Linked DNA regions of Homo sapiens. The protein of the gene in region 1 binds, or shares a complex with, the protein of each later gene. Each region holds a gene or a part of one and is shown in the gene's direction. Other genes may lie near its edges. The genes, in order: ZNF541 and DNTTIP1.

Evidence for each region.
Region 2: ZNF541 (region 1) and DNTTIP1 share a complex: the UniProt entries of both Homo sapiens proteins name them as parts of the histone deacetylase complex.

Annotation. Positions count from the first base shown.
Region 1 is NC_000019.10:47,566,789-47,582,152, reverse strand, and holds the start of ZNF541 (zinc finger protein 541), read left to right. Parts: upstream 1-9,004; 5' UTR 9,005-9,070; intron 9,071-9,120; exon of another isoform or gene 9,121-10,110; 5' UTR 10,111-10,257; intron 10,258-12,370; exon of another isoform or gene 12,371-12,399; intron 12,400-15,364. UniProt on the Homo sapiens protein: Transcription regulator which is essential for male fertility and for the completion of meiotic prophase in spermatocytes.
Region 2 is NC_000020.11:45,799,416-45,814,197, forward strand, and holds the end of DNTTIP1 (deoxynucleotidyltransferase terminal-interacting protein 1), read left to right. Parts: intron 1-1,658; coding exon 1,659-1,727; intron 1,728-1,986; coding exon 1,987-2,043; intron 2,044-2,583; coding exon 2,584-2,642; intron 2,643-3,917; coding exon 3,918-3,963; intron 3,964-5,730; coding exon 5,731-5,789; intron 5,790-5,890; coding exon 5,891-5,951; intron 5,952-9,698; coding exon 9,699-9,770; intron 9,771-11,469; coding exon 11,470-11,525; intron 11,526-11,641; coding exon 11,642-11,780; 3' UTR 11,781-12,003; downstream 12,004-14,782. Other genes in the region: UBE2C (ubiquitin-conjugating enzyme E2 C), read left to right, coding at 13,281-13,381, 14,022-14,049. UniProt on the Homo sapiens protein: Increases DNTT terminal deoxynucleotidyltransferase activity (in vitro). Also acts as a transcriptional regulator, binding to the consensus sequence 5'-GNTGCATG-3' following an AT-tract.

The DNA of each region.
Region 1 (15,364 bases):
ACTTCAATGGAAGAGGAAAGAGGGAGAGAAGGAGGGAGGTGGAAGGGAAGAAGGAAGGAAGGAAGGCAGGGAGGGAGGGAGAGAAGGAAGGAAGGAAGGGCGGGAGGCAGGGAAGGAAGGAAGGAAGGAAGGAAAGAAGGAAGGAAGGAAGGAGGGAGGGAGACCCCAATCCTTGAGAGAGGGAATCACAGGGACAGATGACAAGGGGGTTCCCTTCTGATGGCTTCTATGTGCACAGGGAAGTGTGGGACCTAGTCATGGGCTGGAGGGCAGGGGGGAAATGTAAGCACACCAGAGACACATAGAGAGTGCCCTGCGCCTGTCTGAGGCCTGTGATTTCTCTGATTCAGGTAAAACCCGTTGGGCTGGCTGGGTGGTTTCCTTCTGCTGGGCTCGGCTGGCACAGAGAAGAGGATGGCTGGAGTTTGGCCAGGTGAGTCCTTTAGAGGCCGAGAGGAGTGAGGAGTGTGAGAATGCTTGAAGGACGTGATTCAAAAGACAAATCACAGAAAGCAATGCTGAACAAAGTGAATAGATGGAGACAACAGGAAAAGGTTGGCAGAGAAGAGGAACCTGCGGCCAGGGTGTACCCCTCTCCTTCTGAAGAGCATCTTTTCCCTTAGCTTCTCAGGGGCTTCCATTTTATTTTGTTTTGTTTTGTTTATGAGAGATAAGGTCACATTTTGTAGACCAGGCTGGAGTCCAGTGGTACAATCATAGTTCACTGCAACCTCGGACTCCTGGGCTCATGCGATCCTCCCACCTCAGCCTCCTGAGTAGCTGGGACTATAGGCACATGCCACCACATCTGGCTAGTTTTTTCTTTTTTTAAGAGATAGGGTCTTGCTATGTTGCCCAGGATGGAGTGCAGTGGCTATGCACAGGCATGATCCCACCAGTGATTAACACAGGAGTTTTGACCTGCTCCATTTCCAACATGGGCCAGTTCACCCCTCCTTAGGCAACCTGGTGATCCCCCGCTCTCAGGAGGCCACCAAACTGATGCCAAACTTAGCGTGGACCCTGCATTGGCATAGTGTACTACAGCCCAGAACTCCTGGTCCCAAGTGATCCTCCTGCCTCAGCCTCCCGAGTATCTGGGACCACAGGTGTGTGCCACCATGCCTGGCTCCCTTACTTTAAAAAAAATAATAATTCTATCTATGTCCCTAAACTGCTTATTGTTTAGCTTTGCCTGTGTTTTGAAATGATATTTATTTTTGAGACAGAGTCTCACTGTGTTGCCCAGGCTGGAGTGCAGCGGTGGGATCATGGCTCACTGCAACCTCGACCTCCAGGGCTCAAGTGTTCCTCTCACCTCTGCCTCCTGAGAAGCTGGAACTACAGGCAGATCACGCCACCATGCCCAGTTTATTTTTAATTTTTCTTGCCATGTGGTCCAGGCTGGTCTTGAACTCCTGGCCTCAAGTGATGCCTCCTGGCTCGGCCTCCCAAAGTGCTGGGATTACAGACACGATTCACCACACCCTGTTGAAATGTTATATGTAAATGGGAGCACATCTGTGTTGCTGTGTGTAATGGAAATTGACTCATTTTCACTGCTGCATAATACTCCATTGAATAACTATACCACGATTTATCCAGTCTCCTATAGGTGGACATTTTCATTTCCTTTCCTTCTTTTTTCACCCTAAACTTTTTATTTTGGAGTAATTTTAAATTTACTGGAAACTTGGAAAGATGGTACAAAGAGTTACCACATCCCCCTCACCCTTTCCCTGATGTTGGCATCTTACTTTATCACAGGACAGTCATGTGCCACATAACAACGTTTTGGCCAATAAGAACTACACATATGACAGAGGTCCTGTAAGATTATAATACTGTATTTTTACTGTACCTTTTCTTTTTTCTTTTCTTTTCTTTTCTTTTTTGTTTGAGATGGACTCTCGCTCTATCGCCTAGGCTGGAGTACAGTGGCGAGGTCTCGGCTCACTGCAGCCTCCGCCTCCCAGGTTCAAGTGATTCTCCTGCCTCAGCCTCCCAAGTAGCTGGGATTACAGGTGCCTGCCACCACACCTGGCTAATTTTTGTATTTTAAGTAGAGATGGGGTTTTACCATGTTGTCCAGGCTGGTGTCGAACTCCTGACCTCAGGTGATCCACCTGCCTCGGCCTCCAAAGTGCTGGGATTACAGGCATGAGCCACCACGCCTGGTCTACTGTACCTTTCTATGTTTTGATGCACAAATACTTACCTTTGTGTTTCAGCTGCCTACAGTATTCAGTACAGTTGCATGCTGCATGTTTGTAGCCTAGGAACAATAGGCTACACCATACAGCCTAGCTGTGTGCTAGGCTATACCATCTGGGTTTGTACAGCTTACGACGTTCACGCAACAAGGAAAAAATCACCTGAAGATACATCTCTCAGACAGATCTCCGTTGTTAAGTGACACAACTATACATTTGTCAAAACTACAAAAACATTGGCCAGGCTCGGTGGCTCATGCCTAAAATCCTCATACTTTGGAAGGCCGAGGCAGGCGGCTCACCTGAGGCCAGGAGTTTGAGACCAGCCTGGCTAACACAGTGAAACCCCGTCACTACCAAAAAATAAAAAATGTATAAGCCAGGCATGGTGGTGCACTTCTGTAGTCCCAGCTACTCAGGAGGGTGAGGCAGGAGAATGGCTTGAACCTGGGAGGCGGAGATTGCAGTGAGCCCAGATGGCACCACTGCACTGCAGCCTGGGCGACAGAATGAGACCCTGTCTCAAAAAAAAAAAAAAAAAAAACACACACACACAAAACAGGCGGGGTGCAATGGTTCATGCCTGTAATTTCAGCACTTTGGGAGGCTGAGGCGGGCGGATCACCTGAGGTCAGGATGAGTTCTAGACCACCCTGGCCAACATGGTGAAACTCCGTCTCTACTAAAAGTATAAAAATTAGTTGGGTGTGGTGACGGGCGCCTGTAATCCCAGCTACTCTGGAGGCTGAGGCAGAACCTGGGAGGCGGTGGTTGCAGTGAGTCAAGATCATGCTATTGCACTGCAGCCTGGGAGACAGAGCCAGACTCCATCTCAAAAAAAAAAAAGGCTGGGCGTGGTGGCTCACGCCTGTAATCCCAGCATTTGGGAGGCCGAGGCCGGCAGATCACGAGGTCAGGAGATCGAGACCATCTTGACTAACACGGTGAAACCCCATCTACTAAAAATACAAAAATTAGCTGGGCGTGGTGTCGGGCGCCTGTAGTCCCAGCTACTCGGGAGGCTGAGGCAGGAGAATGGCGTGAACCCGGGAGGCGGAGCTTACAGCAAGCTGAGATTGCGCCACTGCACTCCAGCCTGGGCGACAGAGCGAGACTCTGTCTCAAAAAAAAAAAAAAACCCCAAAAAGTGGATACATTACTATTAACTAAATTCCAATCTTTGTTGAGATTTTTTCTTTTTTTTTTTTGAGACAGTCTTGCTCTGTTAACCAGATAGGAATGCAGTCCTGAGCTAAAGCAATCCTCTCGCCTTAGCCTGTGGAGTAGCTGGGACCACAGGTGTGTGCTACTATGCTTGGGTAACTTTTAAAATTTTTTCGTAGAGACAGGATCTCACCAAGTTGCCCAGGGTGGTCTTGAACTCCTGAGCTCAAGTGATCCTCCTGCCTTGGGGTCCCAAAGTGCTGGAATTACAGATGCCTGGCCTTTGTTGGAGATTTCTCTAGTTTTTTAAGTAATGTCTTTTTTTTTTTTTTTAGATGAAGTCACTGTCACTCTGTTTCCCAGGCTGGAGTGCAGTGGCACCATCTCAGCTCACTGACAGCAACTTCCACCTCCCAAATTCAAGCGATTCTCCTGCCTCAGCCTCCTAAGCCTTAGCTGGATTACAGGTGCCTACCACCATGCCCAGCTAATTTTTATATTTTTAGTAGAGATGGGGTTTCACCATGTTGACCAGGATGGTCTCAAATTCTCGACCTCAAGTTATCCACCTGCCTCGGCCTCCCACAGGGCTGGGATTACAGGCGTGAGCCACCATGCCTGGCCTATTTATTTATTTATTTATTTATCTTGTTCCAGGATTATTCAATCCAGAATCCAGGATCCAATCTGTTTCTTTCCTTTCTTTTCTGTTCTTTTTTTTGCTATTACAAACATTGCTGCTTGTTCTTCTGTTGCATCTCTTGGCGCACATGATCAAGAAGTTTTCTAGAGTTAACCCCTGGGTTTGTCAGTGTGGTTCTACCAATTTTACCTGTCACTAGTCCTGTATACTCAGTTCGTCTTGCTTCAGCAAACAGAAAAAAAAAAATGTTTTTTGATTCACCGAAGTGGTAGGTGTGCTGCGGTATCTTTGGTTTTAATTTGCATTCTCTTGTTGTTGTGGTTAGTCCTCACTTCATGTTTCCTCTTGTATGAAGTGCCTCTTCAAATCTTATATTCTTTTTTTTTATTAGGTTGTCACCTTAATTTGTAGGCCTTTAAAATAAATGCTAAATGCTTTTTTTTATTTGAGACAGAGTCTCGCTCTGTTGCCCAGCCTGGAGTGCAATGGTGCGATCTCGGCTCACTGCAGACTCAACCTCCCAGGTTCAAGCAATTCTCCTGTCTCAACTTCCTGCGTAGCTGGGATTACAGGCACGCACCAGCACACCTGGCTAAGTTTTGTATTTTTAGTGGAGATGGACGTTTCACCATGTTGGCCAGGCTGGTCTCGAACTCCTGACCTCAGGTGATCCACCTGCCTTGGCCTCCCAAAGTGCTGGGATTACAAGCATGCTTGGCTAATGCTAATTTTTTGTTTATGTGTTGCATTTATCTTCTGTGTCCATGAAGTGTTCAATGTCTATCAATGACAGAAGATGCTAATTTATTTCAGGAGCTTAAGTCCTGTTTTTTAACTAGATTCTCATCTGTCCAGTGGCTAGGATCCTTATTTCCTCCATCAAGAAGAGAGATTACATGGCTGAAACAAAGCATTTTTAAAATGTGTGCTAAATAAGCGAAAAAAAAAAAGAAAACAAGAAAAAGAAAAGAAGGCCAGGCACAGTGGCTCTCACCTGTAATCCTAGCACTTTGGGAGCTGAGGCGGGTGGATCACGAGGTCAGGAGATGGAGACCATCCTGGCTAACATGGTGGAACCCCGTCTCTACTAAAAATACAAAAAATTAGCTGGGCGTGGTGGCACGAGCCTGTAATCCCAGGTACTTAGAAGGCTGAGGCAGGAGAATCACTTGAACCCAGGAGACAGAGGTTGCATTGAGCCGAGATGGTGCCACTGCACTCCAGCCTGGGTTACAGAGCGCGACTCTGTCTCAAAAGAAAAAAAAGAAGAAAAAGAAAAAAGAAAAAAAGAAAGAAAATAAAAGAAACAAACAAAAAACCCCACAAAACAAAAAGTGTGCTAAATAAAGGAAGAACCCTCTGAAATTGTTTCCAGGAGTTTAATTCCTGCCTTAGCATGACCTGTAAGTCCCTATGCCATCTGCCCCTAGTTTCTTCACTCACGTGGTTCTGGCCACACTGGTCTCTCTTCTTCTGATTTTTTTTTTTTTTTTGAGACAGAGTCTCACTCTGTTACCAAGGATGGAGCACAATGGCGTGATCTCGGCTCACTGCAACCGCTGCCTCCCAGGTTCAAGAGATTCTCATGCCTCAGCCTCCCGAGTAGCTGGGACTACAGGTGTGCACCACCATGCCCAGATAATTTTTTGTATTTTTAGTAGAGATGGGGTTTCAACATGTTGGCCAGGCTGGTCTCGAACTCCTGGGCTCAAGTGATCAGCCTACCTGGGCCCCCCAAATTGCTGGGATTACAAGCATAAGCCACCATGCCTGGCCTCTCTGCTGTCTTTCAAAAGGGTTCCACATCTTCCTGCCTCAGTGCCTGTGCACGTGCTGTTCCCTCTCTTCTTCCCCCAGATATTTTCATAGGACCCTTCCTTACTTCCTTCAGATCTCTGCTCAATGCAATCTCACCAGAGAAGCCTTTACTGACCTGTATAAAACAATACCCTCTGACCCCATCCTCTTTCCTTTGTTTTTCTTCAAGGTATAACATACTGCATTATAAATGTATTTGCAGCCAGGCACGGTGGCTCACTCCTGTAATCCCAGCATGTTGGGAGGCCAAGGCAGGAAGACTGCTTGAGCCTAGGAGTTCAAAACCAGCCTGGCCAACATGGCAAAACCCTGTCTCTACTAAAAATACAAAAAATTAGCTGGGTGTGGTGGTGCAGGCCTGTAGTACCAGCTACTCAGGAGGCTGAGGTGGTATAATAGCTTGGGCCCAGGAAGTCAAGGATGCAGCGAGGCATGATTACAACAATGCACTTCAGCCTAGGTGACATAGTGAGACCCTGTATCAAAAAAATACAACAAAAAAAGTAAATGCATTTGCTTGTCCCCCTGTAGAGGTATGCTGTCAGTACCAGAGCCACTCGCTACAAGGTTCCATGGAGCCCTGGAAATGTGGCTGGTCTGAATTGAGATGTCCCGTGAATGTAAAATACTGTATATGTGGGGTTTTAAAGACAGCCCCAAAAGTGTAAATTATCTCTTAGTTTTTATACTGATAATGTGTTGAAATATTTGGGATTAAATATTACCAAATTAATTTCACTTGTGTTTCTTTCTCTTTTATTTTATTATTTACTTTTATTTATTTGATTTTTAGGTTTGGGTGTGTTGCCCAGGCTGGTCTTGACCTCCTGAACTCAAGCAATCCTCCTGCCTCAGCCTCTCAAAGTGTTGAGATTACAGGTGTGAACCACCACACCCGTCCCAAGCCATTTTTTTTTTTTTTTAAGAGAATGGGTCCCACTATGTTGCCCAGGCTGGTGCAGTGGCTCTACACAGACAGGGCCATAGCTCACTGCAGTCTCCAACTCTTGGGTTCAAGTGATCCTCCTGTCTCAGCCTCACAAGTAGCTGGGCTACAAGTGCCAGCCGCCACACCTGCCTTCTTTACATTTTGTTCCTTTTAAACATGGCTACTAGAAAATGTAAAATTACATAAGTGGCTGGTGCTTGAAGTTTGCATTTTATTACTACTGAACAGCACTGCTCTAAAACATAAGTTCCAGGAGGAGAGGAATGTCTGTTTGACCCAGACACTATATCTGAGCACCTAGAACAGAGACCCAATAAAAACTTGCTAAATGAAGGGATCCTAAAGCAAGATGACAGGCCCTCTTCTTTCCTCTGTTTCCTCCCCCAATAATCAATTAAAAAAAAAAAAAACTTTGAGGTATAATTTACATAAAAGTCACTCACTTAAGTGTATACTTACTGATTTTTAGAAATTTACTGAGTTGTGCAACCATCACCATAACCCTTTTTTTCCCCCATCAGAGTCTCGCTCTATCCCCCAGTCTGGGGTGCAATGGCCTGATCATATAGCTCACTGCAGCCTTGGACTCCCAGGCTCAAGCGATCCTCCTGCCTCAGCCTCCCAAGTAGCTGGGACTACAGGCGCATGCCACCATCTCCAGTTAATTTTTTTTTTTTTTTTTTTTTAGAGACAGGGTTTCACTAGGTTGCCCAGGTTGGTCTCAAACTCCTAGGCTCAAGGGATCCTCCTACCTTGGCCTCCCAAAGAGCTGGGATTACAGGCGTGAGCCACCACGCCTGGCCCATAGCTCAGTTTTAGAATATTTCCATTACCCAGATAAGATCCGCGATGCCCCTTTCCACCCCGGGCAACCACTAATCTGCTCTCATTCTCCACAGATCTTCAGCACTCCGTTTCTAAGGAATGAATTATCTGCCTCAGTTGCAGGACAGTTCAAACCCCTTGGCCAGGTCGGGCACGGTGGCTCAGGTCTGTAATCCCAGCACTTTGGGAGGCAGAAGCAGGCGGATCACCTGATCACCCGAGGTCAGGAATTTAAGACCAGCCTGGCCAACATGGTGAAACCCCGTCTCTACTGAAAATACAACAAATTAGCCGGGCGTGGTGGCACGTGCCTGTAATCCCAGCTACTCGGGAGGCTGAGACAGGAGAATCGCTTTAACCCGGGAGGCGGAGATTGCAGTGAGCCGAGATCGCACCACTGAACTCCAGCCTGGGCGGCAGAACAAGACCCTGTCTCAAAAAAAAAAAAAAAGAAAAAAAAGATGGTCCTTGGCCAGTCGGCACCAGGGCCTACCGCCCTTCCCAACACAGCTCAGCACGGAGCAGGGGCCCCAGATGGCTCAGCCTTTCCCCAAAGAAGGGAGGAATAGGCTGGGCGCGGTGGCTCTCACCTATAATCCCAATGCTTTGGGAGACTGAGGCAGGAGGATCGCTTGAGCCCAGGGGAACCAGGCTAGCCTGGGCAACATGGCGAGACCTTATCTCTAAAAAAAATGTAAAAATTAGCAAGGTGTGGCGGCGCCCGCCTGTGGTCGCTGCTACTCAAGAGACTGAGGCAGGAGGATCGCCTGAGCCCAGGAAGGGGAGGGTGCGGCAGCCGTGATCGCAGCCTGGGGAACAGGGAGAGACCCTGTCTCTGAAAAAAATTTTAAAAAAAGGGAGGAGCAGCTCGCCCCACATCTCCCCCACCCAATGACGCAGAAGAGACCCTGAGAGACTCCCGCGCTCGCGACAGGGTCCTCGGAAACAGACGATACGGCCTCCCAGCACCAGGACGCTGCTCAGAGGCCCCTCCGGGGACTGGGGGCAGCCATCCAGCGGCCGCCACCGCGTTCTAACACCGCCCACCAGGAACAATGGCTGGAGTGGAGGCTCCCGGGACTCTCGGCCTCGGGATGCGGGTCTTGGGGGACTGGCCCCTCCCCCCGCCGCTCCTCCCCGGCTCACTCTTCTCACTCTCCGCCCTCAACCGCCCCCTCCCAAAATGGCGACCAACCGCCTCCTTTCCCGCCCGCGGCAAGCCCCGCCCCTCGGAGAAGCAGCCGAGAGCGCGCGGCCAGGAGGCACGCGCGAGGCCGCTCTGGGAGGCGTGAGGCGGCCCGCGGTCACGTACGCGCGCCTGCGCCGCGCGTGAGCGAGGAGATCCGGGGGTGGGCCGGGCTGCGCGTGCGCCCCGGGCGGCGCGGGGAAGGCGGGAGGCCGCTGGGAGCCCCGCGAGGCGCCAGGCGCGAGGCCCGGCGCGCGAGCCCCCGGGGGCGGGTAAAACCCGGTTGCTGCTGCCCCTGCCCCTCCCTTTCCTCCTTATCCCCCATTACTATTATTTCCTCTTTTTTCAACCCCTCCCCCTTTTTACAATCTCATTCGTTTCTTGATTTCTTTTTTTAGGGGGCCCCATCTGCCTTTCGAGGGGCGCAGCAGGCGCGGCGGGCGCCCCTCACCCTGCGTCACGCACGCATCTTCTGCAACCCAACAGCTCCGGGCCCCGCTGCACCCCACAGGCCCTTCCCCCTTGGAGAAGACCCTCCTCAGGATCCCCTGGCCCGCTGCACCCCCTTTTCTTTCCCACTCCGTCCCCCCGGGCCTCAACTGCCCCCTCGCAGCCCCCCAGCTCGCGCCGCGGGCCCTACCCGACCTCCCCACCTTCTGCATCTGGGCCTTGCATTCGCTAGCCTCTTCCAGGCCCCTTCTGCTCAGAATCCCCCTTCCTCCTCCATAGTCCCACTTTGGGGCACCCAGATTTATCCCTTTTTAGGATCTTCCAGCAAAACTCCAAATCTCTCCTCCTTTCCTTGACATGCCCCTCCCCCTCCTTTAAGTAACTTCCCTTAGCGCAAAAAAAGAAAAAAAATTAACCCAGTTTTTTTTCATCCGTTCAGGATCACTTTCCAGCAAAATTTTTTTCTTCACACCTAGAGTGCCCCTTTTTGGAATATCTTCGCTTAGAACAAACCAACTAATTCCTTCCAGTTTCTCTCTCGTCTAATATTTATGTTTCCAGTCCTCCTCACCTACCCCCAACTTTCCAGCAAATATCCTTATTTTATCACCAATTCTGCCCTAATTAAGTTTCTCCCGGTAAAATTCTCTAGGTCTCTTCCCACGGGGGAAAAATAAGGAAAGAAGGAACAATTATTTCTTCTTACCAAAAAAACCTTTCCTCCTCACTCAAATCTCCGCTGTTGATACTGCTTTCTGCCTTCTTCCAAAAATTGTTGCTCTTCTCCATTTTCACATCTCTGTTCTTGTTTCTTTGGGACCCAAGTCCTGACTGCTTCTTCCTTCCCACCACCTGCTTTCAGGGCAAAAGAAATTGGGAGTATCCTGCATTTACCACTCAGTGTTCCAGGAGGACATATCCAGTGGTCTGCTTGTCACCTGAACCCCCTCCCTGTGGGGCCTAAACTGGGTCCTCCTGTTCCCTGGAGATTCACTAACTTGCTCTTCTGGTGAGTTTCCTTCCTTTGCACTGAGCCAAAGACACCTGCTTTGTTGGATAGATCTCGTTCTTTCTCAAGAGGGTTTCTAAGCAATACCAAAGTCCGTACTAATGGTAATCATACAAGTTACTGCTTTGGAGAAGTCAAACAGGGAAAAGGGCTATTTATTGTGCATGTTGACCTGTTAGGAGGAGTGCAGACATAGATTGATGTGTGTTTCTTTATTGATGTTTATTGCAAAAAACGTTTTTCCTTCCCTAGCTCAGGGTGGCAACTCAGATACTTACAGGTAAGGCACAGGTAAAGGGAAGAAGTAAGGATTGTCGTGAAGCAAAGATTGTATGTCCCATCTAAGTGATGCCAGGCAGTGGAAATGCCAGGCCAGTGTTGCCAGAACTTTCGATTTCTTTGAGAAGAGGCCAGAAAACTATCCTTAGGTGAAACCTTCTGATTTTTAAATGCTAGCAACACATTTGATAATTTAAGAATTAAATAAGACAGCGTAGGCTGGGCGCAGTGGCTCATGCCTGTAATCCCAGCACTTTGGGAGGCCGAGGCGGCTGAGGAGTTTGAGACCAGCCTGGCCAATATAGTAAAACCCTGTCTCTACTAAAAATACAAAAAATTAGTTGGATGTGGTGGCAGGCGCCTGTAGTCCCAGCTACTGGGAAGGCTGAAGCATGAGAATCGCTTGAACCTGGGAGGCGGAGGTTGTGGTGAGCCGAGATTGCACCACTGCACTCCAACCTGGGCAACAGAGCGAGACTCCGTCTCAAAAAAAAAAAAGACAGCATAGGGAACTTATAAAATATGCCTGCCGGCCACCACTTTGGAATTTTCAGTTTCGGGTTTCTTTCTTTTAGATGCGTGTCTGCTTGGGCACATGTGTATGTGGACATGCAGGACTTTTTCTTATTGGAATAGTAGTTCTCAAACTTTTTTTTTTTTTTTCTTTTTGAGATGGAGTCTCTCTCTGTTTCCCAGGCTGGAGTGCAGTGGTGCGATCTCGGCTCACTGCAACCTCTGCCTCCTGGGTTCAAGCAATTCTCCTGCCTCAGCCTCCCAAGTAGCTGGGACTGCAGGCGTGCACCACCACGCCCAGCTAATTTAAAACTTTTGCTCTTAAGACCCCTTTGCACTTAAAAATTATTGAAGGCTGTAGAGAATTTTTGTTTATGTAAACTTTATCTACTGGCATTTGCTGTATTAGAAGTTTAAACTAATCAACTTTCAAAATGTTTATTAATTGATTTTAAAAGGGCAGTAATAAACCCATTATATATAAACAAAAAAACAAAATGCGCTTTTTTTTTTTTTTTTTTTTTTTTAGGACAGAGTCTTGCTCTGTCGCCCAGACTGGAGTGCATTGGCACTATCTCAGCTCACTGCAAACTCTACCTCCCAGGTTCAAGTGATTCTCATGCCTCAGCCTCCTGAGTACCTGGGATTACAGGTGCCCACCACCATGCCCGGCTAATTTTTGTATTTTTAGTAGAGACGGGTTTTCACCATGTTGGCAAGGCGGTCTCAAACTCCTGGCCTCCAGTGATCTGCCTGCGTCAGCCTCCCAAAGTGCTGGGATTACAGGCATGAACCACCACGCCCAGCCAAAATGGACTTTTTTTTTTTTGGAGATGGAGTCTCGCTCTGTCGCCCAGGCTGGAGTGCAGTGGAGTGATCTCGGCTTGCTGCAAGCTCTACCTCCTGGGTTCACACCATTCTCCTGCCTCAGCCTCCCGAGTAGCTGGGACAACAGGCACCCGCTACCACTCCTGGCTAATTTTTTGTATTTTTAGTACAGACAGGATTTCACCGTGTTAGCCAGGATGGTCTCGATCTCCTGACCTTGTGATCTGCCCGCCTCAGCCTCCCAAAGTGCTGGAATTAGAGTCGTGAGCCACCGTGCCCGGCCAGAGAAAATGACTTTACCTTCTGGTTAAAATTAGTTATTGGTTACATAACTATAAGACTATAGGAGGGAGTCTTTGTGCTTTGTTTTGCTCTTTTCTTTTCTCCTTTCTTTTCTTGAGACAGGGTTTCGCTGTTTGCCCAGGCTGGAGTGCCGTGGTGTGATCCTGGCTCACTGGAGCCTCGACCTCCCAACATCAAGCAATCCTTCTGCTTCAGTCTCCCGAGTAGCTGGGACCACAGGTGTGCACCACCACACCTGGCTAATTTTTGATTTTTTTTGTAGAGATGGGTGGGGGGCGGCGGGGATCTCACTTTGTTGCCCGGGCTGGTCTTGAACTCCTGGACTCAAGCAATCTTCCTACCTAGGCCTCAGAAAGTGCTGGGATTACAGGCGAGAATGACCTTGCCCAGCTGGAAGTCTTTCTTGATTGTTCTACTTAAGAATGTAGGCACGAGTGTGAAGCAGGAGTCCCAGTCTCAAGTGTGTGATAAAAGCATAGTGGAGCGGGCAAGCGTAAGGGTTTCGAAATTAGACTACCCAGGGTTGAATCCTAGCTTGGTTTTGGGCAAGTTACTCAACTTCTCTGGACTATTTACCTCATTGGTGAAATAGGGTTAATAATACAGTATATGCCTCAAGTATTGTGGGAATTAAATACGATGACATACAAGTGATTACAAGAGTACCTGGCATGTCATAAAGCCTCAATAAATGTTCACTGTTATTATTATTATTATTATTACAATGATGAATATTATAAGGGCCAGGCAGGAAGATAAGTGAGGGCTGGGAAAACTGGAGACCATAAGCCCTTTCTAGAGATGCCATTTGTCCCTCAGATCTACCTCGTTGTTAACTGTGAAGGAATATCAAATCTAATCATTTTCAAAAGAAACCAGAAATCCATATAGGAAGGTGAAATCTCCCCATTAAAAAAAAATGTTGATGACTAATCCAATTTGTAAAAATACTGTGTAGGCCAAACAAAATGGGTCTATAGTTTACAATAATATTTGGAGTGGAGGCTGGGCACAGTGGCTCACGCCTGTAATCCTAGCATTTTGAGAGGCCGAGGTGGGTGGATCACGAGGTCAGGAGTTTGAGACCAGCCTGGCCAACATAGTGAAACCTCGTCTCTACTAAAAATACAAAAATTAGCCCAGTGTGGTGGTGTGCACCTGTAGTCCCAGCTACTCGGAAGGTTGAGGAGGAAAATCACTTGAACCCAGGAGGCGGAGGTTGCAATGAGCCAAGGCCACGCCATTGCACTCCAGCCTGAGTGACAGAGAGAGACTTCAACTCAGGAAAACAAAAAAAATTGGAGTAGGAAAGTAAGGAAGGAAATTGCAGGCCGGGTGCAGTGGCTTGCACCTGTAATACCAGCACTTTGGGAGGCTGAGGCAGGTGGATTGCTTGACGGCAGGAGGTCGAGGCCAGCCTGGCCAACATGGCAAAACCCTGTCTCTATTAAAAATACAAAAATTAGCCAGGTGTGGTGGCACATGCTTGTAAACCCAGCTACTCGGGTGGCTGAGATGGGAGAATCGCTTGAATCCGCGAGGTGGAGGTTCAGTGAGCCGAGATCACGCCACTGCACTCCAGTCTGGGCGACAGAGTAAGACCCTGTCTCAAAAAATAAAATAAAATAAAATGAAGGAAATTGCATAGCTAGGGTGAAAGCTGCAAGTCTGTCTGCTCAACTCCCAGGAACCTGCTGTTACTCAGACTTGATGACCCTTTCCCTGGTAACATGGATGCAGGGAGAGAAGGGAGAAGGTGGTGCTTAGGAGGTGGGGGGTGTGGTGGCAGAACAGTGGTTGGAGCTTTTCAAAGAGGAAAAGAGGTGGCACAATGGAATTCTGTCACTCATGAATGAAAAGGATGCTCAGAGCCTTCTGTGATCAAAGTTCTGTGCTAGGCAAGATACTGTGAGAAGTTTAGACACCTAAGGCCGAGTCCCAGCCATCCTAGAGCTGAGAGTCTGGAGAAAATGGGAGAACTTTAAAGATAATTAACTTCCTAGATAATTTAGAGTAAATGTTAAGTGGATTGTTACACAAGTGCTTGTCAGGGTTCAGAGGAGGGAGAAATTAATCTCAGACTTTGTTATGTTGGAAGTGTTCTCTATAGTGGAGGTGACATTTAAGCCTGAGTTTGGAGGGTTTCATTTGGAGGGTCATAAACTCAGATGCCTCCAGAGGCCTGGCAGGGCACAGAAATCAGTGAGCTGAGAGAATAGGGAGTGGTGGGGGCTTCTCACCTCCAACCAATTGTTGCCTTGCAGGAATGTGGACTCAGCATTGGCAGATCTTCTGATTTTTTCTTTCACATTTTTAAATAGAAGTTGGAAAGCCTAACTTGAATGAGAAATCCCTAGATTTGCACCATCTGATATGGTAGCCATTAGCCGCTTGTACCTGTTTAAATTTAACTGGCCAGGCGCGGTGGCGCACGCCTGTAATCCCAGCGCTTTGGGAAGCCGAGGAGGGCGGATCATTTGAGGTAAGGAGTTCGAGACCCAGCTTAGCCAACATGGTGAAACCCCATCTCTACTAAAAATACAAAAATTAGCTGGGCATGATGGCGGGCGCCTGTAATCCCCAGCTACTCAGGAGGCTGAGGCAGGAGAATCACTTGAGCCCAGGAGGTGGAGGTTGCAGTGAACTGAGATTGCACCACTACACTCCAGCCTGGGTGACACAGTGAGACTCTGTCTCTAAATAAATAAATAAATAAATAAATTTAACTAAACTTAAATAAAATAAAGAGTTTAGTTCCTCAAGGGTGTTAGCTGCATTTCTGTGTATGTGGCTAAAGACTGCAGTATTGGGCAGTGCAGGCTTAGTAGCACAGAAAGTGCTTTTGGATAGTGATGCTCTAGTGCTCTATCCATCTATTTTTCTATTATTTATTTTATTTTATTTATTTATTTATTTATTTTTGAGATGGAGTCTCGCTCTGTGGCCCAGGCTGGAGTGCAGCGGCCTGATCTTGGCTCACTGCAAGCTCCGCCTCCCGGGTTCATGCCATTCTCCTGCCTCAGCCTCCCGAGTAGCTGGGACTACAGGCACCCGCCACCACGCCTGGCTAATTTTTTGTATTTTTAGTAAAGACGGGGTTTCACCATGTTAGCCAGGATGGTCTCAATCTCCTGACCTTGTGATCCGCCCGCCTCAGCCTCCCAAAGTGCTGGGATTACAGGTG
Region 2 (14,782 bases), on another chromosome or scaffold:
CCTGCTGCACCATCTCCCCTCTGCCCATTCCATCCTTTTCTTTGTCAAATGAGCCAGGTGTTCCCACCTTTGAGCTTCTGCACTCCTCCCTGCTGCTGAAACACTTCTGCCCAGCTTTTTTTACAGCCTCCTTCACATCTCAACTCAGAGGCCACCTTCTGAGCAAGGCCTTCCCTGGCCATTCCCGCAAAGTAGCCCTTCCCCTCTGGTGGTTCTCTGTCACATCTGCCTGGGTTTTTTTCTTTTTTTCTCACAGCATCTATCATGATCCACAGTTACCTTGTTTGTTTCTGTGCTTATTATCCAGATCACCCACAAACTATAAGCTCCACAAGAGCTTGTCCTAGTTACTGCTGTGTCCACAGCACTTAGGTCCCAGGTACTCAGTATTTATTAAAAGAAAAACAGCAGGCCAGGCGCACTGGCTCACGCCTGTAATCCCAACACTTTGGGAGGCTGAGGCGGGCAGATCACGAGGTCAGAAGTGTGAGACTAGCCTAGCCAACGTGATAAAACCCCATCTCTACTAAAAATACCAAAAAAAAAAAAAAAAAAAATTAGCTGGGTGTGGTTGCACGCCTGTAATCCCAGCTACTCAGGAGGCAGAGGCAGGAGAATTGCTTGAACCTGGGAGGCGGAGATTGCAGACAGCCGAGATCGCACCACTGTACTCCAGTCTGGGCAACAGAGCAAGATTCCATGTCAAAAAAAAAAAGAAAAAAGAAAAACAGCAGCTTACTGAGGAGTATGTGTTATACTAATGTATTTAGTTTGAAAAAACATACAGTATGTATTTACATGGGAAAAGCAAGGAAGAATTTACATTGAAACATTAATAGTAGTTTATGTAATGAGATTCCAGGTTTTTCTTATTTTGCTTTTTTACATTTTTTAATTTTTCCAGCCATGATCATTAATTCAAGTTTTTTTAAAAATAGATATCTATTTCTATGCATATAAATATATATATGTGTGTGGCTGGGCGTGGTGGCTCATGCCTGTAATCGCAGCACTTTGGGAGGCCAAGGCAGGTGGATCACCTGAGGTTAAGAGTTCGAGACCAGCCTGGCCAACATGGTGAAACCCCGTTTCTAATAAAAATACAAAAATTAGCTGGGCATGGTGGTGGGCACCTGTAATCTCAGCTGCCTGGGAGGCTGAGGCAGGAGAATCGCTTGAACCCAGGAGGCGGAGGTTGCAGTGAGCTGAGATAGCACCACTGCACTCCAGCCTGGGCGACAAGAGTGAAACTCCATCTCAATTTAAAAAAAAAAAAAAAATATATATATATATATATATATATATATATATATATATATATATATATATATATATATATATTTGGAAGTGGGCCGATCACTTGAGGTCAGGAGTTCAAGACCAGCCTGTCCAACATGGTGAAATCCCGTCTCTTCCAAAAATACAAAAATTAGCTGGGTATGGTGGCGCACCCCTGTAGTCCCAGCTACTTTGGAGGCTGAGGCATGAGAATCACTTGAACCCAGGAGATGGAGGTTGCAGAGAGCCAAGATGGTGCTGCTGCACTCCAGCCTGAGCAACAGAGCAAGACTCTGTCTCCAAAAAAAAAAAAGGAAGTAGGTAGGGTGTGCTTACCCACCAAAATAGTGACTGGTAACACTTGGTCTTTTTCCCTTCAGGCTAAACTGCTCTTTTCAGATGGAGAAAAAGTAATACCCAGATTGACCCATGAGCTTCCAGGAATAAAGGTCAGAGTCACTGTGTTCTCGGGTATTGGAGCGGGAGGTCCTTCAGGCTGGGAGGCAAGTGAAATATGTGGGCCCAGGGAGGTTCCATGTACTTCCATTTGTAGGACCAGGCCCACACAGCATCATGCTGGATGGGCTTCTTTGGCCTGGGTCAGAGCGGGGCTGGAGAGCTGTAGTCCAGGGCTGTCTTCTGCAACTCCAGAAGACCTGCAGCTCCCAGGCACTGGCCTTCCACTGACTCCCTTCCCTTTTCTTTTAGCGTGGCCGTCAGGCAGAAGAAGAATGTGCCCATCGAGGAAGCCCCCTTCCTAAAAAGGTAAACCATTTCCTTGTTTTGTTTTCTGGCTGAAAAAAGGCTTGTCAGGCCGGGTGTGGTGGCTCACACCTGTAATCCCAACACTTTGGGAGGCCAAGCGGGGAGGATCACTTGAGCTCAGGAGTTTTGAGACCAGTCTGGGTAACATAGTGAGACCCTGTCTCTAAAATAAAAAAAAAATTAGCCAGGCATGCTGGCACATTTCTGTCGTCCTAGCTACATGAGAGGCTGCAGTGGGAGGATCACCTGAGCCCAGGAGTTCAAGGCTGTAGTGAGCTATGATCATGCCACTGCACTCCAGGCTGAGTAACAGAGTAAGACCCTGTCTCTCAAAAAAGGCTCTTCACTCCGCAAGGTACTGGGCTTCCTCAAAGCCCTTTTGAGCCTTCCTAGACATGAGAGGCAGTTTTTCTCCCTGTCCCTGTCAAACATCATTTGATCTCTTTGGAAAACCATCTCTGCCAAGTGACCCTGGACCTGCCAATGGGGTATGGGGAGTAACCACAGGGTCAGACCTCTGACAGCTGTTTTTTGTGGCAGAGGAAAGGACGGCCTCCTGGACACATCCTGTCAAGCGACCGGGCAGCCGCCGGCATGGTGTGAGTAGGGACCAACAGTGTGGTGAGAGCATAGGGGAGCAGACGGAGAGAGGGGCCCTGAAGGAAAAGAGTCCAGGGTTCTGTGCCTGTCAAAATCAGATCCATCAGCTTAAGTCATCGTGGAGGGGGGTTATCCTGGTTGGAGGGGTGAGGAAGGAGGGTAGTGAGGAGGAAATTGTTTTACCCCCTGAACGGTTTGGCCCAGCTTGATGAAAGATTAAACTCCAGAGGTTTGTCATTGTTAGTATATATTGGATGCTTATGACTGGTCTAAATACGTTACATACTTTACCTTTTAATCTTTATAGCCACCCTGTAAAGAAGATATCATTAATTTTTCAGATAACAGACTCAGAGAATTACTTGCCTAATGTCATATCGTTAACATTGCCTCCAAGACGGTCATTTTCAAATATATATTTTTTTAAGACTTAATTTTTTTAGAGCAGTTTTAGGTTCACAGCAAAATTGAGAGGAAGGTACAGACATATCCCGTATACTCCCTGACCCTACACATGCACAGCCTCCCCCATTATCGACATCAGGCACCAGAGTGGTACATTTGTTACATTTGATGAGCCTACTTTGACTCGTCTTGATCCTCAGAGTGCATAGTTTCCATGAGGGTTCACTCTTGGTATTGTACATGAACTTAGACAAATGCATAGTGACAGGCATCCACCATTCTAGTATCACACTGAGTGCTTTCAGTGCCCTAAAAATCCTCTGTGTTCTGCCTGTTCATCCTTCCTTCCCCCTCAACCAACCCCCAACCCCACTTTTTAAAAAAAATTCTGAAGCAGCAGAATCTTTTTCAAACAAAACTTTACATGGGAGCCCAGTATTTAAATCAAATAAAGCCACACTGGTCTGGTTCAGGGGCGTGGGGTTAGTTTGGAACAGCTGGCTTAGTAGATGGGCTAGTATTAACTGTCATACCTTAGATGTGTCTCCTACACGAAGCAGTTTTATTCCTCACAAACACAAGATAGGTAGGGCAGTTGCTGTTTTTGTCTCTTTTGACAGATGAGAAAACTGCCACTCAGAGGTTCTTGGAGTTGCTCATGCCACTATGTAAGAGCAGAGCTAGTGCTAGAATGGCTTCTAGTCCAGTGCTTTTTTTCCCTTTGTTCCTCCTCTTATGTGTCACCACGAAGGAGGATGTCCAGGGCTAAAGTGAGAGTGTGTGAGGAACTCCTACCACCACCAGCAAGCTGGCATTTAGTCCTAGGTCTCACCTTGGAGAATTCACCTTTATTCTTTCCTTCCAAGCAGATGGAAACCAAAATCCTGTGAACCAATTCGCCGGGAAGGCCCCAAGGTATGATTATGTGAGCATGGCAGAGATCACGATCCCAGGAGATAGTCCCACTATCTCTAGGACCCACCATGAGGGAAAGGGGCAGGGGGCGAAGGGTGCATGCACACCATTCCAGAGCCATCTGCCCCTCTCCACCTCCAGCCACACTGGCCTCAGAGAGGATCCTGTGTAGGAATTGGAGTTAGAGGCAAAACAAAGAGAGGGCTTGAGTCTTTGCTGAAGCCTTCTCCTTATAGGAGTTAGTGGTCACTAATACTGATTCAATACTTAGTATGTAACGGGCAGTGTCCTAAATCTTTTGTGTAGACCATCTCATTTAATCTTTATAACAAACTTATGAGATCAATTCTGTGAACCATTCTATAAATGAGGCGTTTCCTTTTCTGCCAGCTTCCCTGTGGGCATAAATTATTTTATTCAGTTGTCTTATACACTTAATGCACTTAAGACTTGCCCAAAGTCACATAACTCGTAAGTGATCGAGCTGAGTCTCAAACCCAAGACCCGCTGACACCAGAGTCTGTGCTCTCAACCATTAGCCTCTGTTGCCTCCCTCTCTCTCCTGAGTTCTTCCTCAGCAGTGACTTATATAAATGGTTGTTCCCCAGAATTCTCTCCTTGGCCCACTTCTCCATCTAAAGTAACTCTCTGGATAATCTAAAACATATACTCTTATGGTTTCAGGGACCACCATGTTCTAAAACTCCCATACCTCTTTGTCCATCCCATGCCTCTTTCTACTTTAAAACTTGTTTATCCTACTATCTGCTTGACCACTCTGCTGGAAGTTTCATAGGCATTTCAGACTCAGCATATCCAAACATGAAATTAGAATCTTTCCTCACAGCCCTTCTTTACATTCGTTATCTTAATCATCTTTGCCTCCTCCTCCTCTTCCTTACCTCCCTACACCCAGTCGAGTCCTGGACAATTCTTCCTCTTAAATATATTGCAGTTCCTATTTCCTTCTGTTCATCCTTACTGCTGCCCTAGCTCAGGCCCTTAGCAGCTTTCCAACTGCTTTATCACAGCGGCCTCTAAACTGCTCTCCCTGCCTGTAGTCTTGCCCCTTCAAATCCATTATCCACATTGCTAGAAGACTAAGCTATCTTTAAAGGAAATCTGACTCTCACTCCCTGTTTAGAGGCCTTCAGCGATTCCCCATTGCCTACAGAAGAAATAAAATGCAGTCCCCTGAACATAACCTCCTAAGACCTCCAACTCCTCTGTGTTTCTCTCTCCAGCCCCATCAGCTGCCACTCCCTAATTTGTACTCTCTCTGTTAGCAGCACAGAATTACTAGTAGTTTCTCCAGCAGGCCAAGCTGCCTCTCACCTGTCTTTGCTCATGCTGCCCCCTGTCTGGAATGCCCTTGTTCCTGACCCCCTTTACCCCAACTTGTGCTCACCCTTTCAGAATTAACTTGGGAAATGCCTCTCTAAGGAAGCCTTCCTGGCTGGACCCTCCCCTCGGCAGCCCTCAGACCCTGCACTCACTTGTGTCCTTGCCTCATCGCACAATGGTGTAATTATCTGTACATATGTTGGTGGCATCCTAGAAAACAGAGACTGTATCTTATTCATCTCTTTATCCCCAGTATCTAGCACAGACAGGGCCTAGCATATTGTGAGTACTCAGTGTCTTGGGTCAACTGTTGATTAAATAATAGACAAGGGGAAGGGTTAGAAAAGGGTAGGGGGAGGAGTGTTTCTGTCCTACCCATCAGATTAAACTTCACCCTCACGAGCTTCTCTATTTTTTGCACAGTGGGACCCAGCTCGCCTGAATGAATCTACCACCTTTGTGTTGGGATCTCGAGCCAACAAGTAAGTTTAAGAGCTTTGGCACTGATTGAGGAAACAGCTCAGGAGTTCACTAGTAGGACTACACTTTCTGGAATCTTGACCACTTGGCTTTTACTTTTCAGAGCCCTGGGGATGGGGGGCACCAGAGGAAGAATCTACATCAAGCACCCACACCTCTTTAAGGTAGGTGACTGCTGGGAGGAAAGCAGGCCATTGCATTGGGAGTAGACTGGGAACTCCACTCAGCACAGAGAAGCTTAGAACAAACACTGATCTTGGAGTCAGGACATCTGGGTTCTAGTTGTGCCTCTGCCATTCACCTTTCCCTTTCATGATTTACTCAACACCTCTGTGCCTCAGTAATAACAGCTACTTTGCTTGCATGCTTACTGGGTGCCAAACACAGTTTTAAATCCCACACTTATATTATCTTAAAAAATAAGTATTGCCATCCTTATTTCACAAATTTGAAACAATCAGAGGTTGAGAAAGGCTGAGTGACTTGCCCACAGTTATTCAGCTAGAAATGGTGAGTCAGGATTCAAATCCAGGTCTGTCCTCACCAAAGCCTGAGCTCTTAACCACTACCATATTTGGTTGTCTGTAAATTAGAGTTTGGGCCAGGTGCGTGAGCTCACACCTGTAATCCCAGCACTTTGGGAGGCCAAGGCGGGTGGATCACCTGAAGTTGGGAGTTCGAGACCAGCCTGACCAACATGGAGAAACCCTGTCTCTACTAAAAATACAAAATTAGCTGGCATGGTGGCTCATGCCTATAATTCCAGCTACTCAGGAGGCTGAGGCAGGAGAATCGCTTGAACCCAGGAGGCGGAGGTTGTGGTGAGCCGAGATCACACTGCCCTCATATTTGCATTTTAAAATAACTCTGGGGTCTGGCACAGTGGCTCACGCCTGTAATCCCAGCACTTTGGGAGGCTGAGGCTGGCGGATCACCTGAAGTCGGGAGTTCGAGACCAGCCTGACCAACATGGAGAAACCCCGTCTCTACTAAAAATACAAAAATTAGCTGGGCATGATGGCGCATGCCTGTTATCCCAGCTATTCAGGAGGCTGAGGCAGGAGAATCGCTTAAACCCAGGAGGCAGAGGTTGCAGTGAGCCAAGATCTCACCATTGCACTCCAGCCTGGGCAACAGAGCAAAACTCCATCTCAAAAAAAAAAAAATAGAGTTTGGAGCAAGGCAGGGTCCTGTGCCTTTTCAAAGAGGGTACTCCTCTTCTGAGAGCAGCTATGTTTTGGTCCCCACTGTTTGAGGGAATAATGGAGGAAATCATAAACTCACTCACCCTCTTAGATGATTTTGTATTTTATCAGTCACGAGAGCATCGAAGTAGATTAGAAGAATAGCAGTGCATGTGTGTTCCACACATGGTTTTTTGCACTTATACGTAAGGCTTGGCACCTCTTGCCAGAACTGCACAGCCCTGTGGGATCCCAGAATCACGGGCTTTCTCTACCACATTCTGTGCAAGTTTTCAAGTTCTTTGAAAGGCATACCTGCTCACGCTTCTTCTCCAGTCTGATATCCTCGAGTCCCAACACTTAAACAGTTTGCCCAGTGGCTCCTTTGTTTTCCTCTCTTAATGTCGTCACTCTTGCTATTCCCATTGCCTGGGTGGCCTTTCTCTCCCACCCTTATCTGCCTGACTATTCTTTAAGATCCACCTCCTCCAAGAGCTTTGTTTGTATCATCCCCAAAATCAATATGCTTTTGGACCTACTTTGAATTCCCACTTCAGCGTGGTTTAAAGTATGGCTTCAGGCCTGGTTCCATTATTTTACTAGCTGCATGAACTTGAACAAATGGCTCCACATTTGTTTTTCTTTTTTCTTTTTTTTTAACTAGCTCAAGTCTGGGAATTGATCCACATTTCTGAGTCTGTTTTTGTCCTGTATAAAATGAGAATAGTGATAGACCAACCATTTTTTTTTTTCTGAGACGGAGTCTTGCTCTGTCACCCAGGCTGGAGTGCAGTGGCGCGATCTCAGCTCACCGCATCCTCCACCTCCTGGGTTCAAGCAATTGTCTGCCTCAGCCTCCCGAGTAGCTGGGATTACAGGTGCCCACCACCATGCCCGGCTAATTTTTGTATTTTTAGTAGAGATGGGGTTTCACCATCTTGGCCAGGCTGCTCTCAAACTCCTGAGCTCAGATGATCCACAGCCTCAGCCTCCCAAAGTGCTGGAATTATAGACTTGAGCCACTGCACCTGGCCCAACTTTACAAATTCTCTATTAGTGATTATAAGTATCTTTTCAGTCATTTAGAATCTATTTGTATTTCTTCTGTAAGCTGCCTGTTATATCTTTTGCCCATTTTTCTCTCCTTCAGAAGGCATTATTCAAATTCTTTTCCTTTTTTAAATGTTTTGATTATAGAAATAATATATAAACCCATTCCCGTGGTAAAAAGATTCAGACGATACACAGGAGGTAGTAGAGAGCAAAACACAGTTTCTCAGCCAGGTGCAGTGACTCACGCCTGTAATCCCAGCACTTTGGGAGCCCGAGGCAGGCGGGTCACCTGAGGTCAGGAGTTCAAGGCCAGCCTGGCCAACATGGTGAAACCCCATCTCTACTAAAAGTACAAAAATTAGCCGGGCATGGTGGTGCACTCCTGTAGTCCTAGCTACTCTACTCGGGAGGCTGAGGCAGGAGAATTGCCTAAACCCAGGAGGCAGAGGTTTCAGTGAGCCGAGATCACGCCACTGCACTCCAACCTGGGCGACAGAGCAATACTCTGTCTCAAAAAATATATATATCAGTTTCTCTTCACTCCTCGATTTTTTTTTTAAGGTGCTTAAATTCTGGTTTCTAGGTGCCCAACCTAGAATAGAAACCAGAATTTAAGCCTTATTTGGGTTGAGCACAGTAGCTCATACCTGTAATCCCAACACTTTGGGAGACTGAGTGGGTGGATCAGTTGAGGCCAGGAGTTCAAAACCAGCCTGGCCAACATGGCAAAACCCCATCTCTACTAAAAATACAAAAATCAGCTGGGTGTGTTGGCACGTGCCTGTAATCCCAGCTATTCAAGGCTGAAGCAGAAGAATAGCTTGAACCCAGGAGGTGGAGGTTGCGGTGAGCCAAGATCATGCCACTGCACTCTAGTCTGAACAACAGAGCGAGACGTCATCTCAATAAATAAATAAACAGCCAGGCACGGTGGCTCACACCTGTAATCCCAGCACTTTGGGAGCCCGAGGTGGGCAGATCACCTGAGGTCGGGAGTTCAAGACCAGCCTGACCAACATGGAGAAATCCCATCTCTACTAAAAATACAAAATTAGCCGGGCGTGGTGGCGCATGCCTGTAGTGCCAGCTACTTGGGAGGCTGAGGCAGGAGAATCGCTTGAACCCAGGAGGCGGAGGTTGTGATGAAGCAAGATCATGCCATTGCACTCCAGCCTGGGCAACAAGAGTGAAACTCCGTCTCAATCGATCAATCAATCAATCAATCAATAAACCAACCAACCTTATTTGTAACTCCAAAACCGAATTCTTAACCATGATGCTATTATGCGTCCGAGAGTACATGAGGTGTCCCGATTTTTGTTTTATTATGGTCACCATAATAATTACAGACGTTATAAGCCACCTCCGATCATTTTTTAAAAAGAGGAAGCTCTAAAATAATAGTTATCAGTCCCACCAGTTGCCCGGGGTGCTTTGTTGTGAGAAGGGGGTGGGGATTGGGAGTATACTAAGTCTCTGGGAATTGGGTCCCATGGTCTGCCCTCGGGGTTGGCTTAGCTTTCTCTGAAGAGATTAGTGAGCCCTCTAAGTCCACCACGCTTGGAGACAAGGACTTTTGGTAAGAACTGCTCAAGGGCCAAGAGTATGCTCTGGGACCAAATGAGAAAAGCCCCTTACCCGAGGCTAATTTTCTTACAACTTCATTCCTTACAGTATGCAGCTGACCCCCAGGATAAGCACTGGCTGGCTGAGCAGCATCACATGCGGGCAACAGGGGGCAAGATGGTAAGCATTATTCATTTGTGCCACTGCCAGTGACCCACCCCACCTGGGAACCAGGATTTTGGCTGTGGGTGACAGCCTACCTCCAAATCTGACTTCCAAAGCCTCACCAATGTGTGAGAAGAGAGACTTATAAGGCCTATTTCTTCATGCTGAAGAGCAAATTGTAATCTTCAGGTTCCCTTCCCTATCCCTAGGTCTCCCTTCCGCCCCCTCACACTTTTACCTCATGCCTCCAAGATCACATATTTGGATACTATTAGCTGTCCATAGGAATAGCAGGTATAAGACACACAGTACTACTTTTTCCCACTACTGCACCCACTGACAGATTTCACTCATTGATCACTCTTCCACCAGACACAGCTATAGAATCTTTTCTCAACACAGTACTTGAGGCAGCAACCCTTGTCAGTAGGAGTTAGCAATGAAATGTGTTTGCACACTTGGCAGCCCCTTCCAGATTTACCTCTACTTGAAGAGTTCTCAGATCATATGAAACAGCAACCTTAGGAAAATCATCATTGCATGTGTTCAAAAACTATTGTTGAGGGCTTTGTCCATCACACACAATGTCCCCCACCTGAGGACTCACTCACTCCCACCACAGGTACTGCTCCTTTTAGAATCTAAGTGCCTTACAAACTGATATGCCATCTCCTTTCTGGCAGTGAGAGCTACCTTTTATTTTATTTTACTACTCTATTTATGCCTATGCTTTACTTCAAAAAAGATTTCAGGTAAGCTTCATGCACATAAAATGCAACATTACATAAATAAGAAATAGATGGTAGGGGGTGGGGGCAGGACCTAAAATTAAGCCACCAGTAAAAGTAGTTCTTTAAAAAAAAAAAGTGTTTTTTATATTGCTGACCTGGGAGACCTGTGCACTTCTACAGATGTTGGCAAATTCAGCTGTAGGCCCCACTCATGGACACCTGATCTGTTATGGTTCATAGTGCCCATAAGATGTAGACAAATTACTCAAGGAATACACAATTATTCCTGACCCTAACATTAGAAAGTCTCCCACAGAAGACTTTCTAATATGATGAATATCTCTTCCTATATGTTAAGTTCACAAAAGGGCCCTCACCCACTGTAGACCGAGGCATTGTGACAAAGCATTTCTACAGGCCCCAGTACAATACAGGCCAATTACTAGACAGCAGAGCAGTTTATCATGTTTTCCATTTTGCCACAAAGTTCAAAACCAAGTTATCTTTGTCCTCAGAGGGAGCACATGGTTTCCTCTTCCTGATTTCCTGTTTCCATATATATTTTGCTGGCTTTCTTGCCATTTTGTTATAACCCACCTTGGGTCCTTTCGTATACTTGATCTTAACCAAAAGGTGTAGGAGCAATGGTGGATCCCTTTTTTTTTCTTTTTTTCTTTTTTTTTTTTTTTTCTTAATTTTCACCACACCATTCAAGAGAGAAATGGGTCCTTTTTTAAAAGAGAAGGCTATAAATAAGTCACCAGTCCCTACTCTCCCATCCATGAAGCATCTACTGTAGTAAAAGATTGTCTCAAGGAACCATTCCCATCCCTCCCCACTTACTCTTCCGTACTAAATTGTAAACCGCATCCCCCGCTTCCACCTAGTAGCAGGCCTTACATTAAACAGATGTTTAATGAAGTGTTACTGAGTTGGAGTGAAATGAATCAGGCAATGACCACTCTCCCTTGCTCCTGCCTCAGGCCTACCTCCTCATCGAGGAGGACATCCGGGACCTTGCGGCCAGTGATGATTACAGGTAAAACCAGTGGGTCTCCTGCCCCTTCTCCTCTCCCTGCCTCCAAATAGCCCCTAGAATGAGGCAGGGCCTACATCCTCACTTCCCCCAACTTCTCTCTTCAATGTCTGTTCCAGAGGATGCCTGGATCTGAAGCTAGAGGAATTGAAATCCTTTGTCCTACCCTCCTGGATGGTGGAGAAGATGAGAAAGTATATGGAGACACTACGGACAGAGAATGAGCATCGTGCTGTTGAAGCACCTCCACAGACCTGAGGCCGGGTCCCCTGGCCACACTTGGCAGCCCTCCTCCAAAGCCCTCTTCCTCACGTGGCTGAGGCCACCGCTGGGACTGCTCCTAGATGGATCTCAGCGGCATTAAGCTGTGCCTGAGCGAGTTTGTAGTGACTCACTGCACAGCACCCCCAGACTAGCATGTGGTTCTATATTTGTAAAGTTATTGGGATAAGAAACAATTAAACAGTTTGTAGTAAACACAGATGGTGAACCTGCTGTGCCCTCTACCTTGTGGGAATTGACAGAACATCAAGGGCTCTAGAAGTGGGTGTAGGAAAAAAGGACGAGATAACCCTCACCCATAACAGTATAGAGCCAGGCTTGATAAGACCAACCTGGGAGCACCATGTACCCTGCCCGTCTTCCCTTTGCCCATTTGTAGTTTCCTTACCCAGCTAATGTAAGGACATGGCAGAATGCGATGGAGTTTGATGACAGATCATATGAAAAATAGAGTTGGCTTTTATTGCTCCCATTTTACAGGTTAAGATACTAAAGGACCCGCCCCAAGGTTACACACTACCCACTGGGGAGGTAGGATATACAGGATATGAACCTGTGTTGTTGGGGTTTTTGTTTGTTTGAAGACAGTCTTGCTCTGTTGCCCAGGCTAGAGTGCAGCCTCTGGCTCAAGCGATTCTCCCGCCTCAGCCTCGCCAGTAGCTGGGACTACAGGCTCGTGCCACCTCACCAGCCTTTTTTTTTTTTCTTTTCTTTTTTTTTTTTTTTCTTTTAAGTAGAGACAGGTCTCCCTATCCTGTTGCTCAGGCTGGTCTCGAACTCCTGGGTTCAAGTGATCCTCCTGCCTGGGCCTTCCAAAGTGTTCGGGATTACGGACGTGAGCCACTGCGACCAGCCTGAACCAATGTTGCCTTTTTTTATTTCTGTCATCTCTGCGGAGATGTATGGACCTATGTTTTCTAATAGGGAGCCTGCTGCTCTGGCCATCAGCCTTTAGTTTTTCCCCTCGCTGGGATTTTCAGATACTTAGGACGCAGCAAAGGTGCCCAGGCGATTATAATGGTGGGAGGGTACCAGTGCTGCAGGATTGGAGGCACTCCCTGCCCGAGGGAAATTGGATCAAGGCTGGGCGTGCCGAGTGTTCCCACGCGGAGTAAGACGTGTAGCCAGAAGGAGGGGTTCATCCCACGTGGACGTTTTCTTGGCCCTTTAATGGTTAGCGTTTTCCAACGGCCACCAATTCGCTACGGATTCGTTAGTTAATGGCAGCATCATCTACCAATCGGTTGTCAGAAGCGGGATTCTGCCGCCCAATAGCGGTGCGCCAGTGGGTAGGTCTAGCAGTGGCGCAGCAATAGAGCGCTCCGGAGCGTCTCATTGGCTGGATCAAACCCAAGCGAGCCATTGATTGGTCGACGCCCCCAGAGGGTTACAATTCAAACGCGGGCGGGCGGGCCCGCAGTCCTGCAGTTGCAGTCGTGTTCTCCGAGTTCCTGTCTCTCTGCCAACGCCGCCCGGATGGCTTCCCAAAACCGCGACCCAGCCGCCACTAGCGTCGCCGCCGCCCGTAAAGGAGCTGAGCCGAGCGGGGGCGCCGCCCGGGGTCCGGTGGGCAAAAGGTGAGTGATGCGGCCTACCACTCGCCGGGCCTGCCATGCCCTAGGCATTGGTACCCAGAGCAAAGATTTCTAGGACCACCCCCCGCCGCCACCTCCTGGAGCGGGAGATCTGCGGGTGCAGGAGAACACACCAGGAGCTCGGGGCCTGGCATTCCCCTGGGCATGGGTGTCGAGGGCGGAGACTTCCGGGACTCCCACCTCCTTGCGCGGGTGAGATTCGAGAGATGGGGGACAGGCCAGGAGCTCAGACCGCTCTTTGAGACTCTCCCGAAGGAGAATGGGAGGGTAGGGGCGCTGCCAGACTCCTTCCCTGGTGGGCCTAGATGAAGACGCTCAAGGACCCTCGTGACTTGGCCGAGACAGGGGAAGGGAGAAGTTGAGTCGGGCAAGGAAGAGATGCTAAAGCCTGGGGAATTAAGAACATGCCAGAATCATCCCGAGGGAGTCTGGAATTAGGGAGGGTGAGGACTCGCTAGGATCGTCCTGTGGATCTGGTGAGTATACCCTGAGCTGAGCCTGACCTTGGTGATGTGGGGAGCCTCCATGACGGCTCCCCCTGAGATTCAGGTGGGAGAAGATGCACCGTCTGGAGGCCTGGCCCATCCAGACTCCCAGGTAACCCCGAATACTCTTTTTTCAGGCTACAGCAGGAGCTGATGACCCTCATGGTGAGTGATTAAGTGCCCAGAACCCCAGCCTTCCATCCAATTTTCAGTAGCCTCCTTTTTTCCGTCAGCTTTTTTGCTAGACATAGGGGTAATGTAATTTGCTCCCTCCTGGGAAAGAAGTTCATACACCCCACCTACACCATTTCTTCCAGCAGTCCCTCCTCCCAATTCCATCCCCCCACACGAAGTTATCTCGAACACTTCCCTGAAGTCATACAAGACCCTCCCTATCCAGTGTGTCCCTACTTCCTAGCCCCAACCAAGCTTTACCCACACCCAACTCCCCGCCCTTCTTGGTATTTCTAGCCTATGAATTTGGTTGCTTTATTTTGGATCAGAGTGATGAGATTAAGGGGAGGCTGGGCGCGGTAGCTCACACCTTATAATCCCAACACTTTGGGGGGCTAAGGTGGGCGGATCACTTGAGGTCAGGAGTTCGAGACCAGCCTGGCCAACATTGCAAAACCCTGTCTCTACTAAAAATACAAAAATTATCCAGGCATGGTGGTGCATGCCTGTAATTTCAGCTACTCGGGAGGCTGAGGCACAAGAATCATTTGAACCGTGGAGACAGAGGTTGCGGTGAGCCGAGCGCACCACTGCACTCTAGCCTGGGCGACAGAGTGTGTGTGTGTGTCTGTCTCTGTCTATCTCTCTCTCTCAATCTCTCTCTCTCTCTCTCTATATATATATATATGTAAATATATATTTTTTAGTAGAGATGGCATAACCC